Homo sapiens: one gene and its partners. The protein of the gene in region 4 purifies or fractionates together with the protein of the main gene of each other region. This does not show direct contact. Each region holds a gene or a part of one and is shown on either strand. Other genes may lie near its edges.

Region 1 (3,597 bases), on a different chromosome or scaffold from region 4:
GGTGAAGATAGCCATTTTGTTCAGAAGGATTTCCCTGTAATGTATGTCTTTTCTTGCAAGAAGAGTAGGTGAAGACAGCCATTTTGTTCAGAAGGATTTCCCTGTAATGTATGTCTTTTCTTGCCTAATTCTTCCCTAATTTGCATGGGGGAAACTCCAGATCCTCTTTAAGACATTCCTTTGAGTGGTTCACGTCCCCTCCTGAGCAGCCCAGGGCTGGCAGTGATGGACGGGCGGCCTCACTCTGCAGAGGGTGCCTGCTGCATTGCAGTCTCTTCTCATCCTTCCTCCTCAGTTCCGAACCCAGGCAGGTGAAGAGGAGGCCAGGAGCAGATGTTAAATTACTGGTATTTGCTGACACAGGGTCCGCTGGGCTTGAGAAATGCCATGTGGTGTCACACTCCACGCAGCGGTCTTCTCTGCTTGGCTCTTTCCTCAAAGACTCTGAGGGTCTTGACACCGGGCCTACACTCAAGTAACATGGTCAACAGGAGGGCGGGATGGTTCTGGGAGGAACAGGACTCTGGCAGCAAATCCAAATGCCAGTGGATGGGCGGCTCAGAAACATTTATATTTTGGGGTGACACATGATGGTTGCCTCACAACCCTGACCCTCAATAGCGGAGGGATTAGTTCAGCAGGTGGCTAAGACCGTGTCTGTGATGACTTCGCCTTCCTCTTCTCTCACTCTGGGGGTGGGTGAGCCCGCAAGTTCCTCATGGAAAACCAGACTTCAATGGACAGAAATTGAGGGGCAAGTCACAATGCCCTTCTTGACACTGAAGGCGGCCTTGGGTCCAGTCTGCTTTACAAGTTATTTCTAAAACCCAAGTGTGAGGAAGTCTGAGAGCCACAGGTAGATCTTTAGATTGTAAAGTGCAAGGACAAAGGTTAAAAGGTTAGAGCTGAGATGAATTTGGTGATTCCCATCCATATATATATATATATATATATATATATATTTTTTTTTTTTTTTTTTAAATGGAGTCTCTGTCACCCAGGCTGGAGTGCAGTGACACGATCTCGGCTCACCGCAGCCTCTGCCTCCCAGGCTCAAGCGATTCTCCTGCCTCCTGAGTAGCTGGGATTACAGGCGTACGCCACCACGCCTGGCTAATTTTGTATTTTTAGTAGAGTCGGGGTTTTTGCCATCTTGGCCAGGCTGGCCTCGAACTCCTGATCTCAGGTGATCCGCCTGCCTCAGCCTTCCAGAGTTCTGGGATTACAGGCGTGAGCCACTGTGGCCGGCCCCATCCATATTTCTTAAACATGTTAAAGCCCGTTCAAAATTTTTCCATTTCAAATGGTATCAAAGTCCTTGCAAATCTCAATTGAGATACCTCATCAATGATTCAATGAGTACCGGGGGTTAGAGGTATATGAAAAGATGAGAAGCTCACACTGGGCTTCTTCAGTTACAAAACCCCGTTGGGATCACACCCACTCTTCTTCGTGCCCTCTTTATGGTGACATTGGTTTGGGGTGCAGATCTTTAGGTGCTAAAGGGCAACTAGACTTGCCGATGGAGGGGTTTGGGGAAAATTAAGGGCAACCTGCACTGAGTTTTCAAGGCTATATAACTTCAGTAGCAGTTGTATGCCCATATGAAACCATGACCACTAGGAGAGGGGCATGGAATGACAAGTCCTAGTGTGATGGGAGTGGGACATTTGGTTAAGTGTTGGTTCAATGATCTAGACTCAATGAGACACTCTGAAAGCTACAAACTGCATCCACTCTGCCCTACAGCACGAAGGCCACGTTTATTACTGAACTCCTAGCCAGCCTCCAGTGCCCAAGAACGGTCAAGAAGATTCCTTGCTGTTCACAGAGACCAGACAGATGATATCGGTCCCGGAAATGCTTCTTCTCAGAAGCAGTGTCACAGAGGGCTTCCTTCCATCCGTTTTTCTGGAGGGGAAGTGATGGAGAATGCTGAGATGAAGAGGAGAGTGACACACCCAGTGGCTGAGAGTGGCAGGCGCTGCACCTGATGAGAAAGTCCACGTGGGTGGGATCTGGGCCACCTGCTTGGAGAGAGCAGCTGGCCAGTGCCCGTGCCAGACCACTTGTTTAGGCATGGCCTCGCCTGCTGTCTTGGTTCCACCGTGGCCCCGTGAAGGCTGTTATCACACCGCAGTTCTTTACGTTATGGTGGATAAAGCGAGATGCTAACACTCCTGCCTTTCAGTGCTGGGAGCTTTCTACATGGTTTACGGGCACTGCAATGAACAGAATTGAGGTAACTGACCACAAACGACCACCACTTACTATCTAACCCCTGCACCCCTCTCTGGCCAGCCTGGCTATCAGGAAGCATCTCAGTAAGAGGTTTATGAGCAGAGTCCATTTAACCTTCGATAAGAAACGCTCCACAGTTTCCTCTCACAGGGAGAGGGATTGTTTCACAGCAGGGAGTAGGGGGAGCTGGAAATCTGACCATGTCAGTTAATGGGACAGTCAAGGGCTGGTGGTGGGAAGTTCCTGGACTGATGGGGCTGTGCTGACTCTACAGACTTTAAATTCTCTGAGTAAGTGGGGAAGGAGAGGAGAAAATGCAAAACAAAAACATCGAGTCCAGCAACTCTTATCAGGAGATGTGAGTGTCTGCTGGGTTCTGGTGGTAGAGGTGGTCAAAGAACTAGATTTGGGTTAAGTTCCTGCCTAATTATTTATGACTGCTGTTGTCTACGCTACGTCCTTAACAATGCCAATACCTTCATTGATTTGCAGTCTTGGGGTCAGCTTTCTGATTTGCAACATGAAGCTGGCTGAATTCCACGAGGTACATGCAGATGTCAGGAAATGGCCACCCACAAGTAGATACTCAGAGCCCCTCTAAGGGCAATAACAAACAGCAAAAATCCAGAATCATCAAATGGAATCCTACAGGCAAGCGGGTGACTGAGACCCCCAAACTCATGAATTCCATTAGGGAACTTTTCTAGAAAACACACCTTAAGATCGGGGAGGGGAAGGACATGCTATTTACTGCTTCAACTCCAGCAGGTATGTCTCACAGAATCCACTACATCTCTCCCTCACTGAGAAGTGGCCTTTTCAAGGATGGATGACTTGCACACAGTAGGCATTTCATAAATATTCTCTGAATGAAATAACCGAGGAAGGAATGTGTGTAGGAGGAAAAACCTTCATTTATGCTAGAAGAAGGTTCCAGGCAATGCACGAGGCTGAGGTTCAGAGAAGACGAGTCAAGGGCAAAGCTAGCAGGGTGAGTGAGGGATCACAACTTCAGCAGCCACTGGGCTGCAGGAGCTCAGGACACGGGTGCTGGCAAGGCAGGCAGCCTCTTGGAGGTGTTCAGGGGAAACCAGCCCAAGAGCAACGGGCATCTGTTACTGGGGCAAAGCTGCAGGCGGGGACAACAGGGTCTCATATGTCAACTTTGTATGTTCTCTTTTTAATTTTTTGTAGAGACAGGGTCACGCTATGTTGCCCTGGCTGGTGCTCTTTCAACCTCACATGTTCTTCAATTAGAGATATTTGATCTAACACCTCAGTATGATAACGTCAACAGTCTCAAACAGGAGAGACTGGTGGAGAACACCTCACACCATCTTCTTGTTAACTGGCCGA
Region 2 (4,493 bases), about 44 Mb from region 4:
ACACATACATTCCTACAGATATATAACTCTGAAAGCAATTTCAGTCTTATAATTACTACTGGCAGTATACCTACAAATGAAAACATTCCTTCCCCAATCTTTTGTATTAGATTAATATGCAAGTTTCTTTTTATCTAAACTGAATTGTCAACACATTTATCCTTTTAGAATTTTCAACTACATTGCAGGGAGCATATTTAAAAAAAAAAATAGACCGTTTCATTTTCAGACCAAATTAAAATATCAGGTACCACTCTGATATTTTTTTTCAAAATTACCTTGTCTGGATCCATCTTTCCTTTGATAAATTCTTGCTTCCAGAACTGCAATGCCTGTTCCAAAGTTAAACCAATGCCCTTCAGAAATAGGCCATACTGCATTCGGCCTCCATGACGAAGATGGTGATTTTCCCGCAAGGCTTTATGTAACTGACGCATGCAAGGTGGGAAGGATTTGGTAGAAAGCTACAAGAAAAAAATAGTAGAGTTTTAAGTTAAGTGGAAGACTTATCAGGTCCCCTGTAATATTTGTTATGGTTCCTAATTCAATTTAATTGGAATAAAAAAAAAACACCATAAGAAAGTGCCACTTTATTACTGTGGTTACAGATGACTCTTATCTGTATAAGATGTTTCTTATTAACATTTTTTACTGGTTACAAGTTAATATAATATTTTAGATACTTTGGATTAAATAACATACTATTAAAATTTATTTTACCTGTTTTTTTAATTTAATTAAACTTTTTCTTTGAAGTTAACTACAGACTCCCATACAGTTACAAGAAATAATACAAAGAGATAGCATATATCCAAATTCCCCCAAAGATAAAATCATATACAACTACAGTAGATTATCACAAACAGGATACTGACATTGATACAATCCACTAGTCTTATTCAGGTTTCCTCAGTTGTACTCATGCACTTACTTCCGTATTAAATTTTATACAGTTTTGTCACATGTAGGTTCATACATCCACCACCACAGTCAACATGCAGAACAGTTCTGTCACCACAAGGATCTCTCATGATTTTATAACCACCCCCATCTATCTTTTGCACCCTGCTCCCCTCCCTCAGCTCCCTAATCTTTGGCAACCACTGATCTGGTTCTCCATCTCTATAATTTTGTCATTTCAAGAGTATAATAGAATCATATAATATGTATTGTTTTGAGATTGTCATTTTTTACTCAGCAGAATTCCCTCAAGATTCATCTAAGTTGTATATAAGCTCATTTCTTTATTACTAATAGTTTTCCATGGTATGAATGTATCATAATTTATTTATTCACTCATTGAAGAACACTTGGGTTGTTTCCAGTTTGGGCTATTTCAAATGAAGGTATTATAAGCATTCTTGAAGAGGTTTTTATGTGAACATAAGATTTCATTTCCCTGAGATAAAAGTACAATTGCTGAATAGCAGATGAACTTTTAAGATAACTCAAATACAAAGCAGAATACAAAAATAAGAGAAACTTCTCATAAGGAAAATTCAAATAAATATGTTAAAGAAACCAAGTTAAAAGGAACAAAGTGTAGTTAGTGCCTTAGTGCCAAAAATGAAATATCATTGCCTACTTTAATTTTTCACTTACGGTTTCAATTGCATTCTCTATGACTTCCTTAAATATCCTCCCAAGACTTAAATTCTTACTCCCTCACATATGCCTTAGCAAGTTCACTTCATCTATAAGAAAGAGCAGGTCTCACTTTGCTTGACTTTGCTGCTCCCTCTAGTGACCATCTAGTTTCTCTTCATTCTTTTACAGTAACAACTTCTGATTTTTTCCATCCCCAGTCTAGTTCATTCAGACCTATATCCTCCCTTGGTTCTATATCTAGAACTAACTAGAAAGCCTTTCAGCTCCTTTTCATGAGACCATTTTTGTTCCTTCATATTAATATCTGATTTTTTTCTAAACATTGTTCTAATCCATACAATCAATATTCAACATCCTTAGTATGAACATGCAAGGTTTCCTCAATATCTGGTAACTACCTTTCTTTTTTTTTCTTCTTTTTTTATTTTTTTGAGATGGAATCTCACTCTGTTGCCCAGGCTGGAGTGCAGCAGTGCCATCTCGGCTCACTATAACCTCTGCCTCCCAGGTTCATGCGATTCTCCTGCTTCAGCCTCCTGAGTAGCAGGGATTACAGGTGCCTGCCAACATGCCCAGCTGATTTTGGTATTTGTAGTAGAGACAGAGTTTCACCATGTTGGCCACGCTGGTCTCGAACTCCTGACCTCAGGTGATCCTCCCACCTTGGCCTCTCAAAGTGCTAGGATTGCAGATGGCATGACCCACTGCGCCTGGCCAATAACTACTTTTCAATTATACATAACAGAACAATTATTTATTAAGTGTTCTGGAAAATAAGCTAGGACCTAATTGTCCCCTTTAATTCAGTTAAGGAAAAAGACACCACAATTATTATATTCACTACTATGTAAGTTAAACACATGAAATAAATGATAAAATGAGGGCTCCAACAAGGGCAAAACTTGAGCACCACAGAAGCACTGTGACAGGGAGCCTGGGAAAGCCCAGTATATTATTACTACACCAAAATGAGTCCTCGGCTCCAGTCCACTGGATTATTCAATATCCCATGACCACGCAGTCATGCTCTGTAGCTTCTCATTTTTCTCACTCTGCTAGCCCTGCCTGGTGCACCCTTCTCATGCACATGCCATGTAGCCAAAGCCAAGTCATCATTCAAGACCCACCTCAATTTCTATTTCTTTTGGCACATTCCTTGATTACTTCTTATTCATTCAATCAACAAATATTTATTTAACACTTACTATGTGTACAGCCCTGGGGAACCAGTAGTGAACAAAGAAGTCAAAAACCCTGTCCTCGAAGAGCTTATTTTTAATAGGAGGAGACGGACAATGAATACAGACATTAAAAAGATAACATCTGATGCCAAAACACTGGAAATGAAATAGAGAAATGAAATCAAGTGTGATTAGGGGAGAGGTACTTCAATTTGGGTGGCCAGGGAAGCCTTTTTGAGGAGATGGCATTTCAAGTAAGACAAAGTAAGTTGGATTCTAGTGAAATGAAGATCCTGAGAAGGAATAAATGTGGTGTGCTAAAAGAGAGAATAAGATCCATGTGACCAGAGCAAGTGAATGAGCCGGAATGGAGCAGAAGATAAAATAGAAATGATGAGCACATATGGCTTCAGAGGCCACAACATGAGTTTGGATTTAAGTCTACATATGATAAAAACCCACTAGAGGGTTCTGACCAGAAGACTGATGTGATTCAATACACAAAGAGAACTCTGGCTGTTATGTAGTGAAAAGACTATATGAGAGTAAGAATGGAAGCAGGAGGGATACTTAAGAGGTGTGGGCAGTAGTCCAAATAATAAAAATTAAAAAGATAGTGTCTGGCTATATACAGATAGAAAAATGATCATGGAAAACAAGCAAACAAAAGAATCATAAGTCCAGGATAGGGGATAAATTATCAACTTGGATCTTGCAGAGGCCAAGAACAATAACAACAATAGCGCCAGTACACAAGACCATTAGCTAGGTGTTCAAATCATCAACGAATACAGGTGTGGGGGGAGGGGGTCGAATAGCAACAAAGGAGGTATCAGATGATATAATAAGATCACAAGGGCTTTAAAGGAGCTGGAGCTGTAACAATGGAAGGCAGAGAAATGCGGACCAAGAAAGACACTCACCGCATACCTATATATGAACTCGGGGGGAAAGTTGTCTCTACTTGAAGAGGCCCACAGCGGAAACAGCATTGAGAAAGCCAGATTTGTTAGAAGAAAAAACTAAAGAAAACATTTGGAGAAGAGTTGCAAATACCAAGGGATATGCAAATGACATGCTGTTGTGAAGATCAAACAATATAGATACAGAGTTAGGAGGCAGTCCAGAAAAAGATACATCTGTATTACTCACCACGGGGTCTCAGGCACAGACCCATGACAGGATCATCATCATAGCACTTAACATTATATTGCTCATTTATTATTTATTATGTTGTCCCTCTCCCTCATGTAAGGTCCATGAAGGCAGGGACATTTTCTGTTTTCCTCACTTCTGTATCCACAGCACAATGGCTGCTACATAACTGATGGGCTCAATACATATCCATTAAATGAATTAATATTTCTATGAACTCCAACAGTATCCAATGAAATTCACATTTGCTTGTGAATAGGGAAACATCTAGCTAGAACTAAGAACAGAATTAACCTCCAACCATTCACATTATATAAGCACAAATCACATGAGTGGAAGTGAGAAAGTGGACTGTTAGAGATAAGTGTTTAATAAAAAAATTAAAAGATGGGACATCTTTGAGAACAAATTTCAAATCAACAAATCAACTGTGTAAAGTAGGCAACCCTACTGTTATTTCTAGACATATTAACTGCAAGTACTTTTTTATAATTTTTCAAATGGAAGACGACCTATTCATTCTGATCCAAACTCACGTTCTTTCTCTAC
Region 3 (4,493 bases), on a different chromosome or scaffold from region 4:
CAGGTGCCTGTAATCCCAGCTACTCAGGAGGTTGAAGCAGGAGAATTGCTTGAGCCTGGGAGCTGGCCAGTGCAGTGAGTTGAGATCGCACCACTGCACTCTAGCCTGAGCGACAGAGTGAGACCCCACCTCAAATAAAAAACAAAAGAAAAATGGCAAACAACTTGATTAGGCAATTCACTAAAGAGGGTATCCAAATGACCAATAAACATATGAAGTCACCAGAGAAATACTAACTAAAACCCAATGAGAATACCACACATACACAAGAATGACTAACTTTTTTTTTAAACTATAAATATCAAGTACTAACAAAAATGGTGAACAACTTTCATATACTGCTGCAGGGGTTGGAGGGATCTGACCGGGGACGCATAAATTGATTCAACCACTTTAGAAAATGTTGTCAGTATCTACTATAGCTGAACATATGTATATACTATGACCAGGTATGTGTCTACAGACAATACTTACCTATTTGCACCCTTTGAACAAGAATGTTCATAACAGCACTATTAAACAATACTGAAAACAACCCAATGCCTAACAACTGTAGAACAGATTAATAAACTGTGGTATATTCATACAAGGAAATAATACACAGAAACAAGAAGTACTACTATATGCAACAGCATGAATGAATCTCACAAATACAATATTAAGCAGAAGACAGACACAAGATTACATATATAATTCCATTTTTTTTTTTTGAGATGGAGTTTCACTCTATTTCTGTAAAAAGGCAAAACTCATCAATGGTCACAGGAGGACAAGAATTACCTATGGAAAGAAGGGACAGTGACTGAAAAAGAAGATGAGGAGGGCCTCTGGGGTGTTGGTAATGTCTCTCTCTTTTTTTTTTAATCTATGTAGTAGTTATGACAGTGAAAATTCATCAAGTTATATACTTAGGATTTGCATTTTTCTATATTTAGGTTACAGATTAAAGGATTTACTTACAAATATAAAGAGCGTATCAGAATACAACCTTGATTTTTCCCATTTAGACTATTCTAAATAACACTGACTCACAGTAATGTCAAAATCAAGTTGTGTACATATGGATAACTCATTGTTGATAAAGACACAAAGGCAATGTAGTGGATAAAGGATAGCCTTTTCGATATATCCAGGTGCTGAACAACTGGATATCCACATGCAAAAAAATGAACTTGAATCCATACCTTACACCATATACACATATTAACTCAAAATGGATCTTAGACCTAAATGTAAACCTAAAATTCTATCTGATCAAAGACTTGTATTCAAAATGTTTAAAGAAGTCTCAAAATTTAACAGTAAGAACACAAACTAATAAAAAATAGGCAATTATTCGAACAGACATATCATCAAACAAGATACATGGATAGCTAATAAGAACATGAAAATATGGGAAATAAAAATTAAAACCACAATGAGATACTGCCACATGCCTATTAGAGTAGCTAAAATTAAGGCCAGGTATGGTGGCTCATGCCTATAATCCCAGTGCTTTGGGAGGCCGAAGAAGGCAGATCACTTGAGCCCAGGGGTTCAAGACAAGCCTGGGGAACACAGTAAAACCAACAAAAACTATAAAAATTAGCTAGGTGTGGTGGTGCATGCCAGTAGTCTCAACTACTAGGGAGTGTGAAGTGTGAGGATCACTTGGTTCCAGGAGGCAGGGGTTGCAATGAGCCAAGTGAGCCAAGATCACAGTACTGTACCCAGCCTGGGCAACAGAATGAAACCCTATCTCCAGGAAAAAAGAATGGCTAAAATTAAAAGGACTGACCATACCAAGGGTTCACAAGGATGTGAAGAAACTGGAACTCTCATAACTGCTGATGGGAATATAAAATGGTATGACCACTTCATGAAACAGTTTAGAAATTTCTTAAAAAGTTGGCCAGGCACGGTGGCTCACGCCTGTAATCCTAACACTTTGTGAGGCACAGATGGGTGGATCACTTGACGTCAGGAGCTACAGAGCAGCCTGACCAACGTGGTGAAACCCCATCTCTACTAAAAATACAAAAATTAGCCAGGTGTGGTGGCACATTCCTGTAATCCTAGCTACTTGGGAGGCTGAGGCAGGAGAATCACTTGAACCCGAGAGGCAGAGGTTGCAGTGAGCTGAGATTGCGCCACTGCACTCCAGCCTGGGCAAGAGTGACTCCGTCTCAAAAAAAAAAAAAAAAAAAAAAGTTAAAACATACACACCTACAAAGCAATCTGGTCATTCTGCTCCTAGTATTCACCCAAGAGAAATGAAAACATACATCCATACAAAGATGTAGACACAAATGTTCACAGTATCTGTCTTTGTAATAGCCCAGAACTAGCAATAACCCAAATATACATAAACAGCCAATAACCAATTTGTGGTATATCCATGCACAATTACTCAGAAATAAAAAGAAACAAACTATTAATACATGCAACAACATAGAGGAATCTCAAAATAATTGTCATAAGTGAAAGAAGCCAGACAAAATAAGTATACATCCTGTATGAATCCATTTATATAAACTATAGAAAATGCAAACTAATCTATAGTAACAAAAATCAGACAGGTGGTTGGTTGGGGAGGTGAGTCATGTAGGGGTGGGAAAGAGGGATAACAAAAGTCCATGAGAAAACTTTTTGGGAAAGTGAGCATGTTTAAAAAGTTTTGGATAAAGTGAATATGGGGTTGGTGTGTATGTTCACTGTCTTGATTCTGGTGAAAGTTTCATGGAGGTACATATGTCAAAATGTATCAAAGTGTACCATTTAGGCTGGGCGTGGTCGCTCACGCCTATAATCCCAGGACTCTGGGAGGCCGAGGCAGGTGAGTAACTTGAGGTCAGGAGTTCGAGACCAGCCTGGCCAACATGGTAAAATCCTGTCCCTACTAAAAATACAAAAAATTAGCTGGGTGTGGTGGCAGGCGCCTGTCATCCCAATTACTTGGGAGGCTGAGGCAGGATAATTGCTCGAACCCAGGAGGTGAAGGTTGCAGTGGGCCAAGGTCACACCACTGCACTCCAGCCTGGGCAACAGAGTGAGATTCTGTCTCAAAAAAAAAAAAAAAAAAAGTACCATTTAAATATATGCAATTTGTTATGTCAAGTAAACGTCAATAAAGCTGTTTTTAAAAGGTTGTATATAAATATTATACACCAGAATTCCTATAATTAGCTGAAAATTAATCCCATTCATTCCTAACAACAAATATTTATCTAGCACCTACCATATGCCAGGCACCCTGCTAGAGTTCTAGGGATACAATGGTAAGCAAATTGACAATATTCCTAACCTCATGAAGTAGTCTGCCAAGGAAGCAGAGATTAATAAAAGATTTAGACAGACACATATAATACAAACTGTAACAAGTGCTATAAAGGAAAGGTACACAAGGAGAAGACAGACTATAATAGGAAAATCAAATCTACTCTGACAGAAAAATCAGTGATGGATACCCCAAGGAAGTCACATGTAAACTGAGGAAGAAAAGGATAATAAATTGAAGATGGAACTTTGCTCAGAAGAGACACTAATAGAAGCAAAGGCTCTGAGGAAGGAGAAAGCATAAATCTTTGAAGGAAAGGGAAGAAATCCAAAAGGCCAAAATCAAAACAATGTAGACAACACTATTGGTCACCTATTTAATAACTGTTCCACTTCTCTTTCCTCATTCCTACCAGAAGTTCAATCATCTACCCTCCTCTATATAGTCACATGCTTTAGAGGAAGCTGACTCCATCCTTGATTTTAGGAAATGGATACTCTTTGTTTTGACTTAAGTCAATCATGGCAACCTCTGTCTCCCTGCCAGTGACTGGTAAAGGAATAGCATGAGTAAAAGCAGAAAAAAGCGTTATTGGATGCTCTAAACAAGAAATGGTAGTTTGGACTATGGAGGTACCAATGGATATGGAGATGTACATGAAGAAATAAGAAAGAGCAAAGTGTCCAGGATGTTCCCTAGGTTTCTTAGGTAAATAATAGTCTATCCTTTCTATACAGCCAAAAGCAGGTGAAATATTTTTTAAATATATTATTAATAATCTTATGTTACTCTTAATGTATTTCTCTAAAATTAGTAAAAATTATTTAAAGATCACACATAAACATACCTGATACTTATGTAGGATACTGGCCTCAGAAGGCCAGGCAAACTTATCAAGAATGAATCAATGAGGCTAATTAGATTTCGTCTTAGGATACAAACATTGTTTTATAGAATTCTAACATATAATTAACAATAATGGCTACAAATAACATCAATTTTGGAAAATCATTTATTTTGCCTTGCCTTCCTTAAAAAATTATTTAGGACAACAAAATGTCTCAATAAATTAAAAGTCAAACCAAGAATTTAAAAACGTCTATGGATTTTTGACCACTCTGTGCTATTTTAAAATCATTCCAGAGAAACTAGATAGAGATATATAATCAGTTATGCTAACCAAACTTATATAAATTAGGGCTTATAACAGTAATAATTAAGACTCTTATTACAGATA
Region 4 (4,493 bases):
AGGGCAGGCAGGCAGGCAGACAGGCAGGCTGGAGACCCATAGAAGAGTTGATGTTGCAGTTTCCAGTACAAAGGCAGTCTGGAGGCAGAAATCCTTCTCCCTCAATCTTTTCCTGACTCCTGGCTCCTTCAAGCTCCTAAGACAATACTTGAGCAGAAAGGGACTATGTCTCGTGGCACTCCTGTGACCTGCTGCACACACTACCCAGGAGGCTCTTGGTAAAGGTCTACAAACCTACCAAGACCACAGAACTCCATGCAGTTGGTCATGTTTATCTACTTTCCCATCACACTCTTCAAAATATATATGTCTTAAATTTAATAATAATTTAATAATAATAACTAGGTTGGTATTAATAGATGACCACATCTATTATTTCTTTCACTGTTTTGCTATGGTTATTATCAAAACAGTGAAATGCCAAATGTGTATTTCACAAAGTGGATAAAGAACCTACACAATCAGGCCAGGCATGGTGGCTCATGCCTGTAACCCCAACACTTTGGAAGACTGAGGCGGGTGGATCACCTGAGGCCAGGAATTCGAGACCAGCCTGGCCAACATGGCGACCCCATCTCTATCAAAAATACAAAAATTAGCCAGGCGTGGTCGCAAATGCCTGTAATCCCAGCTACTTGGGAGACTGAGGCACAACAATTGCTGGAACCTGGGAGGTGGAGGCTGTAGTGAGCTGAGATCATGCCACTGCACTCCAGCCTGGACAACAGAGTGAGAATCTATCTCAAAAAAAAAAAAAACAAAACAAAGAAACAAAAAAAACCTACACAATCAAGAAATGTCTACATTTGGTTTGTTGTTTGTTGTTTTTGTTTTGAGACAGAGTTTTTTTCATTTTGTTGCCCAGGCTGGAGTGCAATGGTGCAATCTTGGCTTACTGCAACCTCCACCTCCTGGGTTCAAGCGATTCTCCTGTCTCAGCCTCCCGAGTAGCTGGGATTACAGGTGCACAACACCACTCCCAGCTAATTTTTATATTTTTAGTAGAGACAGGATTTCAGCATGTTGGCCAGGCTGGTCTCGAACTCCTGACCTCAGGTGATCCACCACCTCGGACTCCCAAAGTGCTGGGATTACAGGCGTGGCCATCACACCCAGCCGAAATGTCCATATTTGTAATAACTTCCACCATCTAGATTCTTAGAATCAGCACTTTTCTTGGAGAGTGCAGCCCAGATCAGAATGACTGCTCTTAACAATCCCTCCACCCCTCCAGCAGGGTGGTCTCCGCAGCATTTGGTCATGTATCCCCCACACCGTGGGTAACCACAGGAAAGACTGAGCAGGGAGAAAGCATCTGGTACAAACAGAGACAGCTGGGTGCGGGGGCAGGGCTGCACCTTTCAGGTGGCTGAACTTGTCATGTTCATATTTGGGAGCTGCGTGTGGACAATCTTTCACCCACCACATGAACCTGTGAAGCAGAGGATGCTGGTGTAGAGAGGGGTGAATGAGGAAGCAGACACACAGAGAGAAGCAGAATAAAATTCAGAGGGTTTCTGGTTTCCAGGTATCTACTAAAGCCCTGCTGCAGCCCTGTTCCTGCGTCATGTGGGAAACCCCCCTAAGCACCCCCACTGCAAGGGATAGTAAATCTTCAGAGCAGCATGGTGAGCTCTTGGTAACCCCATCAGTACCTTTGAGTGATCACGTAGCTGTGAAGCACGTACTGGATTCACAGCAAATATGACACCTGAAGCTTGGCTTAGGTACCATCCCTTTACCAAAAAAAAAAAAAAGAAAAAATTTAAATATAGTCTCTGAGTCTTACAGGAGGGAATCATCTCTTCAAAAAATAGTTTTAAAAAATCTTCAAAAGCACCATTTGGAAGAGTCTAAAGAACTACTCACTTAAAAATTTTTAAAAATTTTAAAAAGAACTAACTGCATTAGGGCAAAGTAAAAACTACTGTTTATTGAGCTTGATGCAGAGAGCTGAGGGCAGCTGCCAGGTAGGTCTTTATATTTTCCCTCTCATTTTACTTATCACACCAACCCTATATGATAGTGTTAGCTGTGTGTTATTGGTAAGAAAACTGAGGCTCAGGAAGGATGATTATGACTCCCAAAGTCACACAGTAGTAACCTGTCAACCTTTCCTTTCATTGATGAGTGTTATGAAGCACAACATCTTATATAATGATGCTCTTTCCTGGGCTATGATTGCCCTGAGTCAAATATATAACTAAGTGCCTGTATATTTCATTCTTGGTGAAACCCTTAAAACATGCTATTGACTTCCACTTTTTGTTGTTGCTCTTCTTCCCCAGTTTAAGGTATCAAAATGTCCAACTTCTTCATTTAGCTTCTTCTCCCTCCAGTGGAAACTTCTGCAGAATTGCACATTATCAAAGCCAGATATCCTCAACAAAATAATCGTTCAACTGCACCTAATTTCAATTAGATGAAATGAGATTGGTGATGCTTGACTTTTCCTAACAATAATGCCCAAGGGCTTCCTCGGCTCTACGACAAATTGATAGACCAAAAATCATTTCACTCAGTGCTCAGGGGCAGGAACCCAAAGAGAAAAACGCAATCACCTTTTTCACATAGATCCAGAAGAGACCTCAAGCAAGAACTGGAAATGCAGGGTTTGCTAGGATGTCAGAATGGCTGCTGTCAAGTCCAAGTGCATCATGAGCATTATCTGCAGCCTTATTTCCGCTGGCGTGGCAATGCTGGCCAGCAAAATCCTCTCTCAACCCCATTTCCTCCTTGCTCCCTCACCTCTGTTCCTGGCAGCCCTCTTCAACATGAAGCAACTGCTGACACCATGAAGAAGGACAGAAAAGGGCCAATTGCTCCAGGTCCTCAGCTGATGACGCCAAACAAGTTGGGACAAGATCAATGTGCAGCAAGATCAAAGCTCATGGAAACCCTGTGGCCTTACTCACCATCCCAAAAGAGCCTTGCACTCCCATGGAGAAACTTCACCAAGAGAGTCTGCACTGCTGTCTCAAAAACAGAGATCATGAAAACAGATGTCATCACATTCCACACAAGGCAACAGGTATTTTAGCACGGTTCCCCTGCCAGGTTAATTACTCACAGGAGGGTATGTCTTCTGTTCCCAAAGGCAGAGAGCTATCTCATCTTTAGTGTCTGACTGTTCCAGCATCCACACTGCCTGAGGGCTGGATAGAAATTCTGAATCTCAGGTCCCACCCAGGAATCTGGTTTTTATTTTATTTTGAGGCAGGGTCTCACTCTGTCGCCCAGACTGGAGTGTAGTGGTATGATCTGGGCCTTGACCTCCAGGCCTCAGGTGATCCTCCCACCTCAGTCTCCCAAGTAGCTAGGACTACAGGCATGCACCATCATGCCTGGCTAGAGACAAGATCTCACTATGTTGCCCAGGCTGATCTCGAAGTCCTGGGCTCAAGCAATCCTCCTGCCTCCGTCTCCCGAAGTGCTGGGATTATAGGTGTAAGCCACTGTGCCTGACCTGGAATCTGTTTTTTGATAAGATCCCCAGGTGATACAACCACACATGAAAGTCTGAGAGGCATTCAGCTACTGCATGCAGGAGGATAAGAATACTATGTGTTAATTGACACATTCTCTTTAGAACCTTTTGCCTTCCCCCAGGCATACATGTATTCAGTGAAAATGCATTCATTTGTCATTCAATAAATATTCATAGTGTGTCTACTAGGTGACTAAGTGTCTGGCACTGTCTAAGGGAGATAAGGGTACCCTGGTGAACCAAGCAGACAAGGGTCCTACCTTGAAATAACTCACATTCTAGCTGGGGAAACAAACAGCAAGCAAGAAAGCAAGCAAGCAAATGAAAGAGATCATCACACACCAGGAAGAGTGTTACCAGGAAGAGAAAGAGGATGACAGAAGCAGGACTGAGGTTGGAGGAGAACTTTCTAATTGGGAGGGGAGGATCCAGAAAGGCCTCTCGCCCAAAGTAACACGTAAGCTGAGACTTGAAAGTGAGAATGAGCTAGCCATTCCAAAAAGTGAGGCAAGAACCTTCTGGGCAAAGGGATGAGCTGGTGCAAAGGCCAAGAGTCAGGAAAGAGATTGGCATGTGAGGAACAGAAAAGAGGCCAGGTGGCCGGAATATAGAGTCCAGGAGTGTGTGAAGCCATCCAAGAAGTGGGAGAGATGGACAAGGCAGGGCCATTTCAGGCCAAGAAAGTCATGCCAAGGAGCTTGGATGTTATTCTAGGTGCTGTGGGAGCCACTGAAAGTGGAGAGTGATACCTTACACACACACACACACACACACACACACACACACACACACGTGTGCACATGTGCTCACTTTCCCCATTGTACAGAGTAGACTGCATAAGAAACAAGACTGGACCCAGGCAGGCTGGCTTGGGGACACAAAGGTGAGTGAGGCTTCTTTGCCTTGTCTGCGTCCTGACCGTCAAGACGCTTGCTGGGAGAGGCAACAAGGAAATTAACAAAAAATACAGTGTCATTTTAGGTGCCAGTTAATTAGGCAATATCTT
Region 5 (4,233 bases), on a different chromosome or scaffold from region 4:
ACCTCTGCTTCCCAGGTTCAAGCAATTCTCCAGCCTTGACCTCCAAAGTAGCTGGGACTACAGGCGCATGCCACCATCCCCTGCTAATTTTCAATAAACGGGGTTTTGCCATGTTGGCTGGGCTGGTCTCGAACTCCTGACCTCAGGTGATCCACCTGCCTCCACCTCCCAAAGTGCTGGGATTACAGGTGTGAGCCACCGCGCCTGGCCCGCCCCTACTTTTTTGTCTAGTTTCCTATCAAAGGAGCCTTAGCTCAACCTCACAAAAGAAAACAGCTAAAGAAAGCAATCTCTATGATCTTCTAAGAGTGACGCCCTAGGGCCAGGTCAAGAGAACGAAAGGGAGGGAATCACTAGGGCCAGCTAACCTCAAACTTACTTTTCCCACTGTCCCTCTCCTTTCCTCACTTAACTGAGTAAAGTGAGTTTTGAACCTCAAATCCCTGTTAAATTGGGTTGCAACCTAGGCAAGAGACCTACAGTAACTCCCCTCATATTCATTCACTGCTTTTCCTCGTGAAGATAATGGGGTTGCTGAGGAAGAGGATATAAGGACATAAAGCCTTAAGAGTGAAGCTGGAGTGTTGCAAGCTGGAAAGTATGCAGCCTTTGTTTAGGGCAACATGAACAAAACTGAGCCTGGGTGGTGGAGTAGGAGGGTGAGCAGATGGTATATGAAAAAGAATCAGAAAAAATAAGAGGTCTAAATAACTCATTAAAGTTTATTACATTAAAACCATATATCACTTTTATATTGTATTTGCCATTTCTGAACAATACAAAGTAGAGGCAAATAGTAACACTTAATAAAAATGTTGCTTCCCCATTCCTTTCCCTAAGACCCAGCCCTCCCTCAAATATTCCCTCCCACCCCTAACAGAACTCTGTCCTTAATAAAACACTTAAATACATCATAAATAGTAAATTATGAAAAAAAAATAGCAAGAATTCTTTCCTTCTTGTAAAAAACATGGCAGCAAAGACAGGCAGCCAGAAACTGGCTGGGGGTGTCTAATATAGACAGTTATTTGGGGTATGGGCTAACATATTATCAAGGCAGGGTGGGATAGAGAAGGGATAGAACAGGAATTCAACAATCTGCCTGAGATACCAGGCCCCCTTCTTCCCCTGACAAGAGTGGAAGGATCAGATGGAAAACCACAACTCTTGTAGACGGGGAGGAGAGGGCATATGTAGCCCCCATTTCCAACTTCCCTGCATGAAGACAGGGGGGTAGGACATATGGCACAGCAATGACCTCACCAAGGCAAGAATCTGCTGTCTCCCCATGAGTTTAAGAAAATATTTGCTGGCCTCACAGATATGGACTGTCTGTTAAACAGACAGAAGTGTCCCCTCTTTACCTTAGCTCCACAAACAGGAGAACACTGTTGGAAAAGATGAGAAGAGCAAAAAAAATCTCCTCTGGAGAATGATCTAAAATTCATTTGGTAAGTCTTCACATTTAGAAAAACAACCAGAATATATTTCAAATTGCAAAATAGTAATAATTACTATAGCCTGGCAGTGAACAGGATTCTGCCTAGGAAGGGCTATGATCTCCCAGCCCATGGCTGCCTCCTGTTTTAACAAAAGGGATAAAGATTACCCCATGTCCCACTCTCTTCATTCCTTCAGCCTTAAGAAATTCATCAAGAGAGGAGGAGTTTAAAGAGGAGCTGCTTCTGGCAGAGCAATCACTACTCTTCTCTTCATAAACACCATGGCTCTTCTGAGGGAACTCTACGAATAGGCATCTTGTCAACACTTCTGGAGTTCTGATCTGAAAATGGCTTGAAATTGTGTGCTGTGTGCTTTTTCCTTTTTTCAGAAAAAAAAAAAGAAGAAGAAAGCTGGGAGGTGGTTAAACACCCTTATCCCCCAAAAACCTTTACAGAGATTACAGGAGTATTCTTCCAGGAGTCAGAGAGAAAGAACTAAGGTAGGGATAATGTGCCAGCTAGTCTGTCCTGAGGAAATTAAGAGTCCGGTTCCTAGTCAAAGACGAGGGGAAAGAAAGCTGCCAAGTCCAGCAATCCCATTTCCAGCATGAAGAATGGGGGTCTGAAAAAAATTCAATAGTGGAGGCAAAGGGTTGGCCAGTTGAAAATCCATACCACCCAACTCTGGAGTGGAGGGGATGCTGCGGTCCTCAACTCTCTGAGGCACTAAGGCCCATTCATGAGGAAGAGGAAGGAGAGAAGGTTCTTCTTCAGGAAGAAGATGGAGGAGCAGCTCCCCTCACTTCTATTACACTCCTTTTTTGATGACCAAGTAGAAGAAAATTCAGCATTGCTGGGGCAAGGGCTGACATCTTGGGATCACAGAGATGGCAGAATCTTGTTCCAGGTCTTCTGAGGCTTTGCGCTTACTGAAAAGGGAGAGTGTAAAGTTAAGGATGTGGAGTATGAGATTAAGCAGAAATGGAATTCAAGCGTTAAGAAATTTCTATTTCAGCCTCAGCCTCCAAGTATGAGGTACCAAAAATATTTTTTAAAAAACAAGATGGCGGCCGCGCATGGTGGCTCACACCTGTAATCCCAGCACTTTGGGAGGCCCAGGCAGGTGGATCACGAGGTCAGGAGATCGAGGCCATCCTGGCTAACACGGTGAAACCCTGCTCTACTAAAAATACAAAAAATTAGCCGGGCATGGTGGTGGGCGCCTGTAGTCCCAACTACTCAAGGGGCTGAGGCAGCAGAATGGCGTGAACCTGGGAGGCGTAGCTTGCAGTGAGCCGAGATCGCGCCACTGCACTCCAGCCTGGGTGACAGAGCAAGACTCCGTCTCAAAAACACAAACACGATGGCTGGGTGCAATGGCTCACGGCTGTAATCCCAGCACTTTGAGAGGCCAAGGTGGGCAGATCACGACGTCAGGAGTTCAAGACCAGCCTGTCCAATATGATGAAACCCTGCGCCTACTAAAAAATAAAAAATTAGCCGGGCGTGGTGGCACGCACCTGTAGTCCCAGCTACTCCAGAGGCTGAGACAGGAGAACTGCTTGAACCCAGGAGGCAGAGGTTGCAGGTGAGCTGAGATTGCACCACTGCACTCCAGCCTGGGCAACAGAGTGAGACGCCATCTCAAAAATAAATAAATAAATAAATAAATAAGTACAAAATAAAAAAATAATAAAAAATAAAAAACAAGATTTAGGAGGTACCCAGATCCTCTAATCTTGACAATTAACTTCCTGCTCCAGGCCATCAGTGATCCTCTTTATACCTTGCAAAACGTTCACCTCCCACACATCCCAGATACTCACATGGGTGAACTCTGACTCTGCAACTTCAAGCTTTTCCAAGGTTGTACTAACAGGAGAAAAAAAATGGAAGCAGAGAGAAAAAGAATTAGAAGACAACAACAAAGGACTCTCCTTTTAAATCTCATACTGCTTCTCTAATTTTCACTTTGGAATCAATTTAGAATTTGGAAAGAAGAGGCTGAGAAGCTACTAGATTTAGAAGCACACTGTTTTAATTAACCATATTTAGCTTCTTGAATACTATAAAATATTTCCCAGTACCCTGCCCTCTTCTGTTTCAATCTCCAGGTGTCGTAGGTACCCTCTAAGATTGCCCCCAATAATCCCTGCCTCCTGAGATCCATGCCATTGTGTAATTCTCTCTCAAGTGTGGGCTGCATTTAGTGATTCTCTTCTCATGAACAGAATGCAGCACAGGAGATGGAATGTCCATTCTGAGATTAGATTACAAAAATACTGTATCTTCTTCTTGGACTCATGCTCTAGCCCCTGCTTGCCTGCTCTGAGGAAAGCCAGCTCCTATGCTATGAGCTGGCTATGGATAGGGCGATGTGACAAGGAACCGAATACTGCCAACAACCATATAAGTGAGCTGAGAAGCTGATCTTCCCTCAGATAAGCTTTTGGACTAATAGCTTGACTGTAATCTCGAGAGAACCCGAGCCAAAGGCATCCAGCTAAGGTACAGAAACTGGGATAACAAATTTTTGTTTTCTTTTTGAGACAGATCTCGCTCTGTCGCCCAGGCTGAAGTGCAGTGGCACTATCTTGGCTCACTGCAACCTCTGCCTCCCGGGTTCAAGCAATTCTCTCGCCTCGGCCTCCTGAGTACCTGGGATTATAGGCACAAATCACCACACCTGGCTAATTTTTCTATTTTTAGTACAGATGGGGTTTCATCATGTTGGCCAGGCTGGTCTCGAACTTCTGGCCTCAGGTGATCCGCCCTCCTCGGCCTCCCAAAG
Region 6 (4,493 bases), on a different chromosome or scaffold from region 4:
TCTTTTATCTAACTCTTTTTGTACCCATTCACCAGTTGCTCTACATTTCCTCCTCCCATGCTCACACTCTGGTATCAATCAATCATTCTATATTCTGTATCCACGAGATCAAGTTTGTTAGCTCACACATGTGAGAATATGTGATACTGTCTTTCTGGGCCTGGCATATTTCAATGTAATGACATGTAGGTCCATCCACGTTGCTGCAAATAACAGGCTTTTATTCCTTTTTACGTCCAGCCTTTTCTTCACCATTTATTCCCTGCCCCCCAACTTTTTTTTTTTCTTTTTACTTTGCATTCACCTCTGGGTTTATAGGCAGAACCCACTGCAACTGATGGCTTTCAAGACTAGGTTACTGATGACTCTCTGTTACCCACTAAAGCACATTTGAACATAAAGAGTATAGGGAAAACACCTAGCTTTGACAAAAGGAAACCTTTGACAAAAGGAAACATTTTATCATATTTACTTTTAAAAAATAAATACTAGATATGGCTGAAATCCCCTTTATTCAAGAGGTAGCCATTATCTAAAACTTGAATGTTTTGCATTCCTAATGTATCACTTAAACAATATAATTTTTCATGTTTAAAAGCACATAAATGGTATACTGTATATAACCTGCTTCAGCTTCCTTTTTCTTTGTCAATCTTATGTTTTTGAGAGTTATTTGTGTTGTAGCTCTAATTTTAATTGGTGCATAAGCATTCCATTATATGGAATTTATCCTAAGTTTTTAGTATTTCAAAATAATGCAGCATTTACATTGCTGTATGTTTTCCCATTCACACGGGGTAAAAGTTTTTCTAGGATACTGTTTTTCAAATTATTTTTGCCATGACTCTCAGTAAAAACTAGGTTTTACATCACAACTCACACGTTTATTTATATAGTTGAAATAAAAGTTTTCCCTCAAATCCTTTCCATATAACACATTTAATCTTAATACTTTAATGTAGAAAAATGGAGAATAAACAATTCAAAAGTAAACATCAGAAAGATTTTTACATAATCAGTGTGCTTGCCTGTTCATGAGGTAATTTCAGTCTAATTCACTATTGAGCCTAGTTCTTTTCTTTTTATTATTTTTCAAAGTCAGGTTTGTTGAGATATTGTTTACATACAGTAAAATATAACCTTCTAGCTATACAATTCTGAGCTTTGACAAAGATATATAGTGATATAAAGTCATGTAACCACTGCTGCTGTAAAGATATTCCCATGACCCAGAAATTTCTTTGTGCCCCTTTGTAGTCAGTTTCCTCCCACCTCCAGCAACCAGCAATCTGATTTTTGTTAAGGTAATTTTTGCCTTTTCCAGAATGCCATAAGTGGAATTAAAACTCTTTGTGGCAGAAATTGACAAAATTCTAAAATTTATACAGAAAAGGTAAAGGATTTAAAAATAGCCAATACAATTTTGAAAAAGAAGAACAAAGTTGGCAGACTCACATTACTTGAGGTCAAGACTTCCTATAAAGGAATAAAACAGAATAATTTCTTCCTATAAAGGAATCAAGACAGTGTGGTATTGGTAAAAGAATAGATACAGGTAAATGGAATAGAGTCCAAAAATAGACCCATACTTATAAAATGATTTTTGATAAAGTTGCCAAGATAATTCAGTAAATTAAGGATAACCTTTTCTACAAATAGTGTTGAGGTCAAAATAAAAGAAAAAAAAATCTCTCAACCCATATCTCATATCATAAAAAGTTTACTTGAAATGGGGTCATTGACCTAAGTGTAAAACCTAAAACTATACAATTTCTACAAGAAATTACCTTTGTGATCTGGGTTAACAAAGACTTCTTAGAACCCATAAATAATGAATCATAAAAGAATAAAATTGATAAGTTGGACTCCATAAATATTAAAATTTCTGTTCTTTGAAAAATACTATTAAAACACAAGCCACAGACTGGAATATTTGCAAAAATATAACCAAAGAATTTGTATCCATGAAAAACTTTCCTCTTGTAGAAGTTCTAAGTTGAAAATTTTTTTCTTTCATCCTTTCAGTTTTACTTTGTAATGGAAATTCTTTTAAATCTGATTCCCAAAACTTTTTTTTTTTTTTTTAAGATGGTGTCTTCTTGCTCTGTTGCCCAGGCTGGAGTGCAGAGGCATGATCTGAGCTCACTGCAGCCTCCACCTACTGGGTTCAAGCAATTCTCCTGCCTCAGCCTCCAGAGTAGCTGGGATTATAAGCGTCTGCCACCATGCCCAGCTAATTTTTTTGTAGTTTTAGTAGAGATGGGGTTTCGCCATGTTGGACTGGCTGGTCTCTAACTCCTAACCTCAGGTGATCTGCCCGCCTCAGCCTCCCAAAGTGCTGGGATTACAGTGATAAAGTTTTATAATCATTCATTGGTACAAATATACAATTAAGCTTCACTAATTCTCTTCAGCCAAAAATTTTAACCAAATTACTAAATCAGGACTTTAAAAAGCAAATGTATCTCTAACCAAACGTTTTCTTTTAATGTTTCAAATTTCTCAAATGGAAATAATCACATATTAATAAAGAGTACTGGCCCAGCGCAGTAGCTCATGCCTGTAATCCCAGATGGGAGGATCACCTGAGTACAGGAGGTTGTTATTGCAATGTGCCGTGATTGCGCCACTGCACTCCAGCCTGGGCTATAGAGTGAGACCCCAACTCAAAAGGAAAAAAAAATTAATATAAATTTAAATAGTCACATGTGTCTACTGTCTACTGTATTGGACAGTGCAAATCTAGATCTTTGAATGTTAAAACCTTAGCTGTTTTCAATGGCAATAGCCCATAATCATAAAACTTCAGGTAATAAAAACACATGCCAAAAGTAGCCTAAAGAAATTTTTTACATATTCTGTTCAGCATAATTCCACAAATTTTTCAGATGATAAACTGTAATATTTTTAGAAGCATGTAGGAGTGAAGAAGCTGTGAGAATAAGAATATTTTTTCTCTCAAGGTTACCAGATCGTTTTTAAAGAAATAATAAATACTACAAAGAAAATCACATTTTAAGATTTCTTAAAATCTTTCAGTGTCTAGAAAAAGTAAATTAAGAGTTTTAAAATAGTTATAATTAAAAATTTGAAATGTTCACAAATACCTGCTTTTAATTTCATACCCAAGGAGGCTTACTGATTTCCAGTTCTAAGGCTTAAAACTATACATTTCAAAATTCACTGTAGCATATCTCTCTCACAAAAGGAAGACTAGGCAGTTCTACACTACAATGAAATTTATTGCCAGAACAGTCAGGAACCCTGCAAAGAATACAGTCAGTGATGGTAATGAAGAAATAAAAAGCCATGAACAAGACCCAGGTTTCCCCTTTCTTCTAATTCATATAGAAGTCATCCGGCTCTGCAAATATTTCATGGATATGTTTTATCTTAGAGAAAGAAACAACTTACACAATATGCCCCTGTACCAAACCTGCACCCCTGAATCTTAAATAGAAATGGAAATTGAAAAAAAACTTAAGCTCTAGATTCCTCCTCTCTCTGGGCAGGGCATCTCTGAAAGAAAGGCAGCAGCTCCAGTCAGGGGCTTATAGATAAAACTTCCATCTCCCTGGGACAGAGCACCTTGGGGAAAGGGTGGCTGTGGGTGCAGCTTCAGCAGACAAACATTCCTGCCTGCCAGCTCTGAAGAGAGCAGCAGATCTCTCAGCACAGCGCTTGAGCTCTGCTAAGGGACAGACTGCTTCCTCAAATGGGTCCCTGACCCCTCGTGCTTCCTGATAGGGAGACACCTCCCAGCAGGGGTCAACAGCCACCTCATACAGGAGAGCTCCGGCTGGCATCTGGCGGGTGCCCCTCTGGGATGAAGCTTCCAGAGGAAGGAGCAGGCAGCAATCTTTGCTGTTCTGCAGCCTCCAATGGTGATACCCGGGCAAACAGGGTCTGGAGTGGACCCCCAGCAAACTGCAGCAGACCTGCAGAAGAGGGGCCTGACTGTTAGAAGGAAAACTAACAAACACAAAGCAATAGCATTAACGTCAACAAAAAGGATGACCCAAGCAAAAACTCCACCCAAAGGTCACCAACAGCAAAGACCAAAGGTAGAAATCCACGAAGACGAGGAAAAAGCAGCGGAAAAGGGCTGAAAATTCCAAGCACACGAACACCTCTTCTCCAAAGGATCACAACTCCTTGCCAGCAAGGGAACAAAACTGGACAGAGAATGAGTTTGATGAACTGACAGAAGTAGGCTTCAGAAGTTGAGTAATAACAAACTCCTCCAAGCTAAAGGAGCATGTTCTAACCCAATGCAAGGAGCTAAGAACCTTGATAAAAGGTTAGAGTAATTGCCAACTAGAATAAGCAGTTTAGAGAAGAACATAAATGACCTGATGGAGCTGAAAAACACAGCACAAGAACTTCGTGAAGCATATGCAAGTATCAATAGCTGAATCGATCAAGTGGAAGAAAGAATATCAGAGATTGAAGATCAACTTAATGAAATAAAGTGTGAAGACAAGATTAGAGAA
Region 7 (4,493 bases), on a different chromosome or scaffold from region 4:
AATTTGCTCTTAGAGCTCTGAACCATACTTTCATCCGTCTTTTTTCTGTACAGAATGTACAGACAGGACTTTGGGTACCTTTGAAAACTATGTTTCTGTATGACCCTGATCTCAGCATATCGACACCTGCCCTCCACTCTTTCACCTGCCCAGTTCAGACCTCTTACTAGCCCAGCTCCCATTAATTATCCAGAGTTTAGCCAGCATTATGTGACTCAGTATACCTTTTTTATCTGCCCCCACGGAGAACAACTCCGACTACATTAAGTAATCTATTCTAGGAAGCCACAAACTGGGGAACAACAAGTTCACCCTGTCCTGTACTCTTCATTCTGGCAATGTAAACCCACTCAAATCCTTAGCCTCATTTAACATTGTGAGGGACTATAAGGCCCCAAAGGTTAGGGTGAAGGACCAGATTTTACAGATCCTGGGCTGGTGACAAGGCCTACCTCTTACTAGGACTTTAGGGACTTCTCCTGGCTTAATTTTTTTTTCCCTGTAGCCCCCTGGATACCATCTATTACCATCGGGAGCTCCTTTGCTATTCTCTGGATGGACTTCGTGTAGATCTGCTGACGATCACTTCCTGCCATGGGCTTCGAGAAGATCGAGAGCCCCGTCTAGAGCAGCTATTTCCTGATACCAGCACCCCTCGACCATTCCGTTTCGCAGGCAAGAGGGTGAGTGGAAATAGCATAAAGGTAGTTCTTTGGCTTTTCTCTAGCACCAGGTACTGTTTATAGCTAAAGACTATGTTATCTCTAGGCATCTTGGACATGGCCTCCGCCCGCAGCGTGCGGCAAGGGTGATGGCCCCTGCTCCACTTGCAGATTCAGCCAGCTGGAAATCCAGCGGCTATTCCTGCCTCATCCATGACACCCCCCATATACTGTCAAAGTAGAACTACAGGGTAACTGACTTAATGTCTGCTCTCCTCTCTACCTCAGATATTCTTCTTAAGCAGTAGAGTACACCCAGGGGAGACTCCATCTAGCTTTGTCTTCAATGGCTTTCTGGACTTCATCCTCCGACCTGATGATCCCCGGGCCCAAACCCTCCGTCGCCTCTTCGTCTTTAAGCTGATTCCCATGTTGAACCCCGATGGTGTGGTCCGGGGACACTACCGGTAAGTGGCTTCCCCAGCCTGTCTGGACTGTTCCCATTTCCCCTCATGCCCTGCATCTCAGTGAAATTCTGTCAGCCTTCTGGCTTCTGTGTTCCCAGTCCTCTTGCACCCTAATAAAGGCAAGCCCATCTCATCTTCCTGAGAAAGCATGAGATCATATCTAGTGGCACTCCCAGAAAGGAACCAAACTAGGATGACTGCAGGCCCATCTGGGTGGAGGCAGCTACCCTGAGGAAGCTCCTTAGGGTTCTATGGTAAGGGTGACAGCAGATCAAAGAGAGGCCCTGTCTTCAATTCTTTCTTTCCTAACATAGCTTCAGCCTCTCATTTGATAAGTCAGTCTCCTACGGTCTCCTTTTCATCTACACTAGTGTCTCCTTCACTGGCCCAGTCCTCTAGAACCTGCTTCAGTCCTTGTTTTCCTACAGCACAGACTCACGTGGAGTGAATCTGAACCGTCAGTACCTGAAGCCTGATGCCGTCCTGCACCCGGCCATCTATGGGGCCAAAGCTGTGCTTCTCTACCACCATGTGCACTCTCGTCTGAACTCCCAGAGTTCCTCTGAGCACCAGCCCAGTTCCTGTCTCCCTCCTGATGCTCCTGTTTCTGACCTGGAGAAAGCCAACAATCTCCAAAATGAAGCTCAGTGTGGGCACTCAGCTGACAGGCATAACGCTGAAGCCTGGAAACAAACAGAGCCAGCAGAACAGAAGCTCAACAGTGTGTGGATTATGCCACAACAGTCTGCGGGGCTTGAAGAGTCAGCCCCTGATACCATCCCCCCCAAAGAGAGTGGCGTTGCTTACTATGTGGACCTGCATGGACATGCTTCCAAAAGGGGCTGCTTCATGTACGGAAACAGCTTTAGTGATGAGAGCACCCAGGTGGGAATCCTAAGAATGTCATGTGAGTGTGAGAAGTGTTACAGGTTAGGAGATGGGGTTAGGCCATGAACAGAAGGAAGATAGCCTTAGGTAGCTTTCTGGAAGGAAGGCCTGTGTAGACTACCTCTGAAAAAGCTTTGAAGGGCCAAGAAGAGATGGCACAGGGGGATAATGTCTCAATTGTTACATCATGACCTTTTATTAAGGAAAGCTAACTGCATTATAGTCTGCTAGAGTCTGGGAATCCAGAGAAGGAAAATTTTGCATTGTTGGAGGGAGGAAGCTAAAAGCTTAAAAAAAAAAGAATTGCTTCCCAACACCTAGAAGTAATGTCAAACTGAGAATTCAGGCAGCACTGATTACTGTTAATGGTTGTGATGGTATCTGCTGTGTATTAAGTCACATGGTCACATACTTGCTATCTCTTCCTTGCACCTTGTCCCTTCTGTCTCTCCTTCTGAGTTGACTTTTCTTCCCCAAACAGGTGGAAAACATGCTATATCCAAAGCTCATCTCCTTGAATTCAGCCCACTTCGACTTCCAGGGCTGCAATTTCTCAGAGAAGAATATGTATGCCCGAGACCGTAGAGATGGCCAGTCTAAAGAGGGAAGCGGCCGTGTTGCAATCTACAAAGCCTCAGGGATAATCCACAGGTTGGGTGGAAGCTGAGATATAGTTGATGAAATAGCTTCCCTAAAGAAAACACCGTAGCTGGGTGTGGTGGTGCATGCTTGTAATCCCAGCTACTGAGGAGGCTGAGGCAGGAGAATCGCTTGAACCTGGGAGGCAGAGGTTGTGGCGAGCCGAGATCGTGCCATTGCACTCCAGCCTGGGCAACAAGAGCGAAACTCCGTCTCAAAAAAAAAACAAAAAACAACACCCAGTTCAGGGTGTTTGAGAGGGAGGGAACCACCTTAGTCTTCTTAAAAGAGAACCTCACAATTAGCATTATTGTCTTTAGTCTAGGACTCTACCTTGGGGGGACTCTCTGGGTATATGGTACAGTACCAAGGTCAGCTGCTAGTTGCTATGGATTATTAGCACTTTCATTTGTGTTCACTTTTTTCCAAGTGATTGCCTCCTTTGACCACCTAAGTTGTCCTCTATGGTTCTGTCCTGGTATCTGTTCAGGCGGGACACTGATAAAGGTCTTTATGTCTTAGCTACACACTTGAATGCAACTACAACACTGGACGCTCAGTAAACAGCATCCCTGCTGCCTGCCATGACAATGGGCGTGCCAGCCCCCCTCCCCCGCCGGCTTTCCCCTCCAGATACACTGTGGAACTATTTGAGCAGGTATGAATACATGGTGTAAGTGGGAAAAGGGAGAAACCTTACAGTCTGGAAAGGCCTTCACTCTTAGTGCCTGACTCTAAGGTCCTTTGAAGAGATATTCATCACTATGGCCGTCTCACCACTATGATTATTTTCCTCAGTTAACAGGAGCATAACTACAACTGTAATAGTATTGAAAGGATGAACAGGCACTATATCTGACCCCACATCACAGAGAATCCCCTAGCACCTCTGAGTCAGATTCTTTGCCTCTGGGCTTGTCTTTCTCATTCTATTGGATTTATTAGTTTCTGGGCTCAAAAGCACCCTGACTGTAGTGGTCTTGATGATTCCCATTATCCTAATAGAAAGAGCTGGCCAGGTGCGGTGGCTCATGCCTATAATCCCAGCACTTTGGGAGGCCAAGGCAGGCGGATCACCTGAGGTCAGGAGTTCAAGACCAGCCTGGCCAATATGGTGAAACCCCATCTCTACTAAAAATACAAAAATTAACTGGGCATAGTGGCACATGCCTATAGTCCCAGCTGCTCAGGAGGCTGAGGCAGGAGAATCACTTGAACCCGGGAGGCAGAGGTTGCAGTCAGCCGAGATCACACGCCACTGTACTACAGCCTGGGCAATAGATCAAGATGCCGTCTCAAAAAAAAAAAAAAGTAGATCTGTAGGTTACAGAAGGGATTCAAACCCCTTTCCTGCTAGGAGAATTCCTTCATGGCACCAGCCAGAAAGAAAGGACACACTTTGCCCCTCATAATGGAAGAGGGCCCCCAAATTGGCGGTAGTTTAGGGAACAGCTCCAAATCCGTTTGCAATAAACAGCCTGGGCACAAAGGTTAGGGCATCCAATGAGCAAATTATAGGTCTGGCCCCTCCTTCCCTTCCACTGTGCTGTGTACCCACCCCAAGGTAGCAGCCTGGATGGGAGGACCAGCATGCTGAGCCAAACTGGACTACCCCACAGGTGGGACGAGCTATGGCCATTGCAGCCCTGGACATGGCGGAATGTAATCCGTGGCCCCGAATTGTACTGTCAGAGCACAGCAGCCTTACTAATCTACGGGCCTGGATGCTGAAACATGTACGCAACAGCCGAGGCCTAAGCAGCACTCTGAATGTGGGTGTCAACAAGAAGAGGGGCCTTCGAACTCCACCCAAAAGTCACAAGTAAGGCCAGCAAAA

Evidence for each region.
Region 1: the proteins of GFOD1 (region 4) and ERC1 purify together in Homo sapiens (affinity purification with mass spectrometry; 3 studies listed by BioGRID and IntAct, with this or other methods). This does not show direct contact.
Region 2: the proteins of GFOD1 (region 4) and PRIM2 purify together in Homo sapiens (affinity purification with mass spectrometry, with the first as the bait; one large-scale study listed by BioGRID). This does not show direct contact.
Region 3: the proteins of GFOD1 (region 4) and BRIP1 purify together in Homo sapiens (affinity purification with mass spectrometry; 3 studies listed by BioGRID and IntAct, with this or other methods). This does not show direct contact.
Region 5: the proteins of GFOD1 (region 4) and PIP5K1A purify together in Homo sapiens (affinity purification with mass spectrometry; 3 studies listed by BioGRID and IntAct, with this or other methods). This does not show direct contact.
Region 6: the proteins of GFOD1 (region 4) and GLMN purify together in Homo sapiens (affinity purification with mass spectrometry; one large-scale study listed by BioGRID and IntAct). This does not show direct contact.
Region 7: the proteins of GFOD1 (region 4) and AGBL5 purify together in Homo sapiens (affinity purification with mass spectrometry; 3 studies listed by BioGRID and IntAct, with this or other methods). This does not show direct contact.

What each region holds. Positions count from the first base shown.
Region 1 is NC_000012.12:1,490,914-1,494,510, reverse strand, and holds part of ERC1 (ELKS/Rab6-interacting/CAST family member 1), read right to left. Parts: 3' UTR 1-3,597. UniProt on the Homo sapiens protein: Regulatory subunit of the IKK complex. Probably recruits IkappaBalpha/NFKBIA to the complex. May be involved in the organization of the cytomatrix at the nerve terminals active zone (CAZ) which regulates neurotransmitter release.
Region 2 is NC_000006.12:57,533,411-57,537,903, reverse strand, and holds part of PRIM2 (DNA primase large subunit), read right to left. Parts: intron 465-4,493; coding exon 279-464; intron 1-278. UniProt on the Homo sapiens protein: Regulatory subunit of the DNA primase complex and component of the DNA polymerase alpha complex (also known as the alpha DNA polymerase-primase complex) which play an essential role in the initiation of DNA synthesis.
Region 3 is NC_000017.11:61,852,536-61,857,028, forward strand, and holds part of BRIP1 (Fanconi anemia group J protein), read right to left. Parts: intron 1-4,493. UniProt on the Homo sapiens protein: DNA-dependent ATPase and 5'-3' DNA helicase required for the maintenance of chromosomal stability. Acts late in the Fanconi anemia pathway, after FANCD2 ubiquitination.
Region 4 is NC_000006.12:13,477,320-13,481,812, forward strand, and holds part of GFOD1 (glucose-fructose oxidoreductase domain-containing protein 1 isoform 1 precursor), read right to left. Parts: intron 1-4,493.
Region 5 is NC_000001.11:151,246,001-151,250,233, reverse strand, and holds the end of PIP5K1A (phosphatidylinositol 4-phosphate 5-kinase type-1 alpha), read right to left. Parts: intron 3,315-4,233; coding exon 3,269-3,314; intron 2,372-3,268; coding exon 2,369-2,371; coding exon of another isoform or gene 2,287-2,368; 3' UTR 703-2,286; downstream 1-702. UniProt on the Homo sapiens protein: Catalyzes the phosphorylation of phosphatidylinositol 4-phosphate (PtdIns(4)P/PI4P) to form phosphatidylinositol 4,5-bisphosphate (PtdIns(4,5)P2/PIP2), a lipid second messenger that regulates several cellular processes such as signal transduction, vesicle trafficking, actin cytoskeleton dynamics, cell adhesion, and cell motility.
Region 6 is NC_000001.11:92,249,726-92,254,218, forward strand, and holds part of GLMN (glomulin), read right to left. Parts: intron 1-4,493.
Region 7 is NC_000002.12:27,054,125-27,058,617, forward strand, and holds part of AGBL5 (cytosolic carboxypeptidase-like protein 5), read left to right. Parts: intron 1-505; coding exon 506-683; intron 684-950; coding exon 951-1,129; intron 1,130-1,557; coding exon 1,558-2,014; intron 2,015-2,498; coding exon 2,499-2,668; intron 2,669-3,178; coding exon 3,179-3,314; intron 3,315-4,275; coding exon 4,276-4,478; intron 4,479-4,493. UniProt on the Homo sapiens protein: Metallocarboxypeptidase that mediates deglutamylation of tubulin and non-tubulin target proteins.